Homo sapiens: one gene and its partner. The protein of the gene in region 1 purifies or fractionates together with the protein of each later gene. This does not show direct contact. Each region holds a gene or a part of one and is shown on either strand. Other genes may lie near its edges. The genes, in order: DMAC2 and CELA3A.

Evidence for each region.
Region 2: the proteins of DMAC2 (region 1) and CELA3A purify together in Homo sapiens (co-immunoprecipitation; one large-scale study listed by IntAct). This does not show direct contact.

Annotation. Positions count from the first base shown.
Region 1 is NC_000019.10:41,436,843-41,441,084, reverse strand, and holds the start of DMAC2 (distal membrane-arm assembly complex protein 2), read left to right. Parts: upstream 1-1,172; 5' UTR 1,173-1,185; coding exon 1,186-1,203; intron 1,204-1,547; exon of another isoform or gene 1,548-1,575; coding exon of another isoform or gene 1,576-1,611; intron 1,612-2,670; coding exon 2,671-2,867; intron 2,868-4,242. UniProt on the Homo sapiens protein: Required for the assembly of the mitochondrial NADH:ubiquinone oxidoreductase complex (complex I). Involved in the assembly of the distal region of complex I.
Region 2 is NC_000001.11:22,008,095-22,011,904, forward strand, and holds part of CELA3A (chymotrypsin-like elastase family member 3A preproprotein), read left to right. Parts: intron 1-1,610; coding exon 1,611-1,763; intron 1,764-3,810. UniProt on the Homo sapiens protein: Efficient protease with alanine specificity but only little elastolytic activity.

The DNA of each region.
Region 1 (4,242 bases):
CTCTGCTCTAGAGGCTACCTCTCCCTGCAGCGCTTTTCCCCTAGATCTTTGAATGGCTCTTTCCTTATCATTCACTTCTACTTCAATGTCACCTCTTCAGAGAGGCCTTTGCTGATGGCCCTACACCCAGTCACTTTTTTTTATCTGCTTCTCATCAAAATTGCCTTGCTGATTCCTTTGTTTCTTATTCATCCTCTCCCACATCCATCCTCTCCCAGCCCAGAATGTTGACTTCCTGAGAGAGGGACTGGGTCTGTCCTGCTCACCATGGTAACCTCGGCATCTAGAACAGTGCCTGCCATCACGTGGTAGGTGCTCAGTAAATATTCTTGGAACTAATGAATGAATAATTCTATCCACAAGACTTCACAATGGCTCTTCATGCTGCGATCTAGCTTTCAACTCCAAACTGGTCTTGAGATCTCACCTCAGTCTCTAACCTTGACATCTAACCTCTTCACCCACTCTCTTACCTGACCCTAATTTTTAAAAATGACGTGGTCAGCTTTTCAGCCCCCTCATTCCCTGTTTTTAGGAGGTAGTGAGTGGAAGCTGGAAGAATAAGAAAGCTTGGGGAGACTGCAATTGCAGTCAGGAAAGAAAGGTACTCTGCCGGGAAGAACACCCCATCTTCTCCTAGGGAAAGATTGTGGAGTCCTGGGGTTTGTTTTGTTTTTCAATTTTTTGTTTTAAGAGACAGCGTCTCGCTCTGTCACCCAGGCTGGAGTGCAGTGGCGCAATCACAGCTCACTGCAACTTCGACCTCCCCGGCTCAAGTGATCCCCCCGCCTCAGCCTCGTGAGTAGCTGGGACCACAGGCGTGCACCACCACGCCCGGCTAACATTTTATTTTTTGTGGATATAAGGTTGCCCTATTTCTTTGTGGAGATAAAGGCTCCCCTATGTTGCCCAGGCTGGTCTCGAACTCCTGGCTTCAAGCGATGCTTTCGCCTCGGCCTCCACAAAGTGCTGGGTTCACAGGTGCGTGAGCCCGACCTGTGTCTCGTTTTGAAGCTCAGGGAGAGGGCGCTGTGAGCAATCCCTAAACCCTTTAAGAGTAAAAAGTGCGTGCACCTTTAAGAGGACGGTTAGAAAACGCGGGGCGTGGCCACAGGAGAATAAGTTCGCGCTGAACCAGGAGCGTGGGATAAGACCGGCCCCTTCCGGTTACGAAACCTTAGCAAGATGGCGGCTCCCTGGGCGGTAAGTGACCGGAGTTCCTAGAGCCCCAAATTTGAAGTCCGCTCTACAGCCTCCGCATTCAGGGCCTCTGTTGGCGGCCACGAGAGCAGAAAGCCGTGAGGCAGCAGGCTAAGCCTGGCAAGCCCCGTACTGGGAGTGCAAACCTGTGGCTAGTGGGGGCCAGGAAGGATCTGTGAGGGTCGCAGGCGGAGGAGACGCTTTAGCGAGCGAGAGGAGGCAGGGACTTGGCTGAGAGTATCCAATGGGGATGAGGGAGTGGCTGCCGAAGAGCGACGCGACTAACCAATCAGAGGGAGGGATGACACAAGGAGCTAATGGACAGGCAAGGGTGGGGCCTGTAGGATAAGAGAGCTTGGAAGGGATTGTTCGAGGATGTGGGATTTGGTCTTAGAAGACCGAAGGATGAATGTAAGGAAAGTTAGTGGGAGATTGACGAATTTTTACAGAAAACTCAAAAGCATGATGGGTGGGGGAACCAAGAGGTCAATTTGGAGGTTCTAAGGGCATGATCTGGGTGAAATTAAGAGGAGAATTTGAGATATTCTTTCAGAGGATTTAAAATCAAGGAATGAATTTAGGGAAAATTAAAGAGGTTGGCAGCTTTAAACTTTTGAGGAAAATAAGGGTTTGGGTAAAATTATCGAGATAATTTGAAAAAAAAAAAGAATTTGGTTAAAGCAAAGAGAAATTGGGGTAGATTAAGAGGAGACCTTGAAAGCAAAATTGAAGAGTTTGGGGGCTTCTTCCCATTGGCCACACCCCTCGACTTTCTTACTCTCCTCTTCAAAGCTCATGCTTTTTATACCCTTCTCGGTTCAGGGGTGTCCAATCTTTTGGCTTCCCTGGGCCACGCTGTTCGAAGAAGAAGAATTGTCTTGGGCCACACATAAAATACACTAACCATAACTGATGAGCCAAAAAAAAAAAAAAAAAAATCACAAAAATATCCTCCTAATGTTTTAAGAAAGTTTGCATGTTTGTGTTGGGCTGCATGCAGGCGGCGGGTTGGACAAGCTTGGTTGGTTTTAGGGATTGCTCAGAGCACCCTCTCCTTGAGGTTTGGAGATAAGTTTTTAAGATTATATTCTGGGGAAAGAAAGAAGTCATTTGGGAAGACCCCAGCAGAAGAATTGGGTAATTAAGGGGCAAATCTGTGGAAAATTAAGAGGTCAAATAATGCAGGTTTTGAGTGATAAGGGTTTGGGGGAAAGTTAGAGGAAGAATTTAGGAAAATCAACAATATATGGCTAGTCGAGAAAATTTAGGGTTCACTAAGGGGAGGAGGAACTTGGAAAAAACATGGGGAAATTTTTGGAATCTCAAAGACAGTTTTGAAGTTTTGAAGGAAGAACTTAGGGTGAGTTGGGAAGCAGAGGGATTGAGGTTCATGGAGCAAGAACTGGGGGATCCAGCTCTGTGTCTCCCAGGAGGCTCCAGGCTCAGCTCCTTTCCTCTCCCCCTCCCCAGTCCCTGCGCCTGGTCGCCCCCATGTGGAATGGGCGTATCAGGGGCATCCATCGCCTGGGTGCGGCAGTGGCCCCAGAGGGCAATCAGAAGAAGAAAAGGACAATACTCCAGTTCCTGACCAACTATTTCTACGATGTGGAGGCTCTGAGGGATTACTTGCTCCAAAGGGAGATGTACAAGGTGCATGAGAAAAATCGGTGAGAATCCCTGGTCTGCAAGACCCTGTGGAGACCCTGGCCCACCAGAGCCCAGGTCCTGTCCTTGCCATTCCCAGGCAGCACTGTGGCTTCCAGTGCCAGCCTTGATGTCTCTTGCAGCTCCATCTCCAGGCTGTACCCTTCTCAAGGACTCCAGCTCACATAGGCAGTTTGCCACCCACCAGCTCCACTCAGAGTCTAACTGGCATCTCAAACCTAACATGGCTAAAGCCAAACCCTGATTTCTCCCCTAAAAACATCTGCTCACTCCCAAGCCTTCCCATCCCAGTAAACACTGGTGCTGCCCACCCAGTTGTTCAGGCCAAATTCTAAGGAGTCATCCCTAATTCCTCTCTTTGCTTCCCTGCCCTCCACATCCAGACCATCAATAAAATACTAGAATATCTCAGATTTGACCAGTTCTCACTGCCTTCACCATTCGTAGCCTGATCCCTTATAGTTGAATCACTCAATAAGCTAACTGGGTTTTTGTTCCCATACTCTTTTTTTTTTTTTTCTGAGATGGAGTCTTGCTCTGTCTCCCAGCCTGGAGTGTAGTGGCGCAATCTAAGCTCACTGCAACCTCCACCTCCCAGGTTCAAGCAATTCTCCTGCCTCCGCCTCCCAAGTAGCTGGGATTACAGGCGCCCGCCACCAGGCCCAGCTAATTTTTGTATTTTTAGTAGAGATGGGTTTTCACCATGTTAGCGAGGCTGCTCTCGAACTCCTGACCTCAGGTGATCCGCCTGCCTCGGTCTCCCAGAGTGCTGGGATTACAGGCATGAGCCACCACACCCCGCCAAAATTTGTTTTGTTTTGTTTGAGACAGAGTCTCACTCTGTCGCACATGCTGGAGTACAGTGGTGTGATCATGGCTCATTGCAATCTCCACCTCCTGGGTTCAAGCGATTCTCCCGCCTCAGCCTCCCAAGTAGGTGAGATTACAGGCAGGCGCCACCACACCTAATTTTTCTATTTTTAGTAGAGATGGGGTTTCACCATGTTGGCCAGGCTGGTCTCGAAATCCTGACCTCAGATGATCCACCTGCCTCGGCCTTCCAAAGTGCTGGGATTACAGGCGTGAGCCACCACACCTGGCCTGTCCCATAGTTTTTTATAATCTACAAAGCAGCTGAAGGAATCTTATCATCACCAGCTCAAAACCTTCAAATAAGAGCCAATCTCCAAGGCCTAAAACATAGCTCCTACTGAGCTTTGAGACCCCCTATCAGGACTCCACTGGCCCCTTCAGCATGACATCCCTATTTCTTATTTATTCAACCATCCTAATTCAAGTCTCTGAGCCTTTATACTCTGTTCCTTCTCACCACTCAAATCCCTGCTCAAATGTCACCTCCTCCAATTAACACCCAAA
Region 2 (3,810 bases), on another chromosome or scaffold:
AGTGGCTATGATTTTTGCCACTGCACCCAAGCCTGGCGACACAGCAAGACGTTGTCTCTTTTTTTTTTTTTTTTGAGACAGGATCTTGCTCTGTTGCCCAGGCTGGAGTGCAGTAATGCCATCATAGCCCACTGTAGCCTTGCCCTCCTGGGCTCAAGCAACCCTCCAATGTCAGCCTCCCAAGCAGCCAGGAGTACAAGTGTGTGCCACAATGCCTAGCTAATTTTTAAATTTTTTGTAGAGATGAGGTCTCACCATGTTGCCCAGGCTGGTCTCTAACTCTTGGGCTCAAGTAATCCTCCTGCCTTGGCCTTCCAAAGTGTTATGTTTACAGATGTGAGCCACTTTCCTGGCCAAGACCTTGTCTAAGAAAAAAAAACAAAGGCTGGGCGCGGTGGCTCACGCCTGTAATCCCAGCACTTTGGGAGGCCGAGCCGGGCGGATCACGAGGTCAGGAGATCGAGATCATCCTGGCTAACATGGTGAAACCTCGTCTCTACTAAACACACAAAAAGTTAGCCGGGTGTGGTGGTGGGCGCCTGTAGTCCCAGCTACTCGGGAGGCTGAGGCAGGAGAATGGTGTGAACCCAGGAGTTGGAGCTTGCCGTGAGCCGAGATCGCGCCACTGCACTCCAACCTGGGTGACAGAGCGAGACGCTGACTCAGAAAAAAAAAAAATACTATCAAATACCCTCATTGTATTGTAATTGAGTATGAATTAATAATTAACTATGGTGCCACTAATAAGAACTATGTTTATCGAGTGCTTCTTCTCTACTGGATATCGTGCTAAGATCGTGCATCATCTCATGTAATTCCCTAGGCTCTTGGACAGATACTACTATTCCCTATCACAAATGAGTCAGCTGGCTGGGCGTGGTGGCTCACACCTATAATCCCTTTGGGAGGCCCCGGCAGGTGGATCACCTGAGGTCAGGACTTTGAGACTAACCTGGCCAACATGGTGAAATCCCATCTCTATTAAATATGGCTGGGTGCAGTGACTCACGCCTGTAATCCCAGCACTTCGGGAGGCTGAGGCGGGCGGATCACGTGGTCAGGAGATCGAGACCATCCTGGCTAACACGGTGAAACCCCGTCTCTACGAAAAATACAAAAATTAGCCGGGCGTGGTAGTGGGCACCTATAGTCCCAGCTACTTGGGAGGCTGAGGCAGGAGAATGGCGTGAACCCTGGAGGCAGAGCTTGCAGTGAGCTGAGATCCTGCCACTGTACTCCAGCCTGGGCGTCAGAGTGAGACTTCGTCTCTAATAAAAAATAAATAAATAAATAAACAAAAATTAGCCGGGTGTGGTGGCAGGTGCCTGTAATCCCAGCTACTTGGGAGGCTGAAGCAGGAGAATCACTTGAACCTGGGAGCCGGGAGACGGAGGTTGCAATGAGCCAAGCTTGCGCCACTGCACTCCAGCCTGGACAGCAGAGCGAGACTCCATCTAAAAAAATAAAAATAATAAATGATAAAAAAATGAGCGAGCTAAGGCTCAGAGGTGTCAAGTAATGTCAGAGTTTCTTGAAATCCCTAGAATTCAGAACCAGTTCCGTAAACCTCAGACATGGCTCAGCCACCCACTCCTCTCTGACGGTTCCAGGGTGACTCTGGAGGACCCCTCAACTGCCCCACAGAGGATGGTGGCTGGCAGGTCCACGGTGTGACCAGCTTTGTTTCTGCCTTTGGCTGCAACTTCATCTGGAAGCCCACGGTGTTCACTCGAGTCTCCGCCTTCATCGACTGGATTGAGGAGGTGAGGAGGGCAGGGCGGCCCGGAGGGCTTTAGGGTGGTGGCTCTTCTGAGAGGTGACAGGTGAGAAACATCGGATCCTGGGGAGGGCCTGAAAGGATCCTAGAAGCTCAGTGGGGAAGGGCCCTTGGGGACATTCCAGAAAGGCTTGGGGATGTTTTCTGATACAGTGTGACCCCAGGAACTTGATGGCTTCTGGGTGGTGCTTGGAACTACAGCTGAACTTCCTTATTTCAACAAGTATTTATAAAGTATCTCCTCTGGTCTTGTCCTCTCTTGTCAGGGAGGATAGAGAGACATGCCAGACAAGAGGCTGCCTGGTGGGGGACAGGTGATTACATGAATGAGAACGATGCAGTCTGATGAGAGCCGAGAGAGGGGAGTCCAGGCCCCAGACTTCATCTGGGGATGGGTGATCAGAGAGGACTAATAACGCTCATGGTAACAGTAATAGCTAAACAACAAAAAAAAAGAGAGTAATAGCTGGGCATGGCATAGTCATGCCTGTAATCCCAGCACTTTGGGAAGCAGAGGCAGGTGGATCACGAGGTTAGGAGTTCAAGACCAGCCTGGCCAAGATGGTGAAACCCTGTCTCTACTAAAAATACAAAAATTAGCCGGGCATGGTGGTGGGTGCCTGTAATCCCAGCTGCTTGGGAGGCTCAGGCAGAGAATTGCTTGAACCTGGGAGGTGGAGGTTGCAGTTAGTCGAGATCATACCACTGCACTGCAGCCTGGGTGACAGAGCGAGACTCCGTCTCAAAAAAAAAAAAAAAAAAAAAAGAGTAATAGCTAGCTGGGTGCAGTGATGCCCACCTGTAGTCCCAGCTACTTGGGAGGCTGAGGCAGGAGGATCGGTTGAGCCCTGGAGTTCTGGGCCATAGTGCGCTATACCCATCAGGTTCTGCACCAAGTTTGGCATCAATGTGGTGACCTCCTGGGAGTGGGGACCACCAGGTGGCCTAAGGAGGGGTGAACTGTCCCAGGTCAGAAACAGAGCAGGTCAAAACTCACATGCTGAAAAGTAGTAGGATCACACCTGTGAATAGCCACTGTACTCCAGCCTGGGCAACACAGCAAGAGCCTCTCTCTTAAAAAAATGAAAATAAACTAAATAAAATAAAACAGTAGTGCTTGCTTTGGCAGCACATGTACTAAAATTGGAATGATATAGAGATTAGCACGGCCCCTGCGCAAGGATGACATGCAAAGTCATGAAGCCTTCCAATAAAAAAACATTTCTGGTCGAGTGCAGTGGTTCATGCCTGTAATCCCAGCACTCTGGGAGGCCAAGGCCCATGGATCACCTGAGGTCAGGAGTTCAAGACCAGCCTGGCCGACATGGTGAAACCCCATCTCTACTAAGAATACAAAAAATTAGCCGGGCGTATTGGTGCATGCCTGTGGTCCCAGCTACTCAGGAGGCTGAGGCAGGAGAACTGCTTGAATCTGGGAGGCGGAGGTTGCAGTGAGCCGAGATTACGCCACTGCACTCCAGCCTGGGTGACAGAGCAAGACTCCATCTCAAAAACAAAAACAAACAAACAAACAAAAAAACAGTGATGATTTATAGACCATTTAATCCCTTGGTTCCCTGACCCATGTTAAAAAAATATATATATAAGGCCAGGCACGGTGGCTCATGCCTGTAATCCAAGCACTTTGGTAGGCCAAGGCAGGTGGATCACAAGGTCAGGAGTTCGAGACCAGCCTGGCCAATATGGTGAAACCCTGTCTCTACAAAAATATAAAAAAATTGGCCAGGCGTGGTAGTGCGTCGCTGTAATCTCAGCTACTTGGGAGGTTGAGGCAGAAGAATTGCTCGAACTCAGGAGGCAGAGGTTGCAGTAAGCTGAGATTGTGCCACTGCCCTCCAGCCTCGGTGACAGAGCAAGACTCTGTCTTAAAAAAAAAAAAAGGCCGGGCGTGGTGGCTCACACCCGTAATCCCACCACTTTGGGAGGCCGAGGTGGGCAGATCACGAGGTCAGGAGATTGAGACCATCCTGGCTAACACGGTGAAATCCCATCTGTACTAAAAATACAAAAAT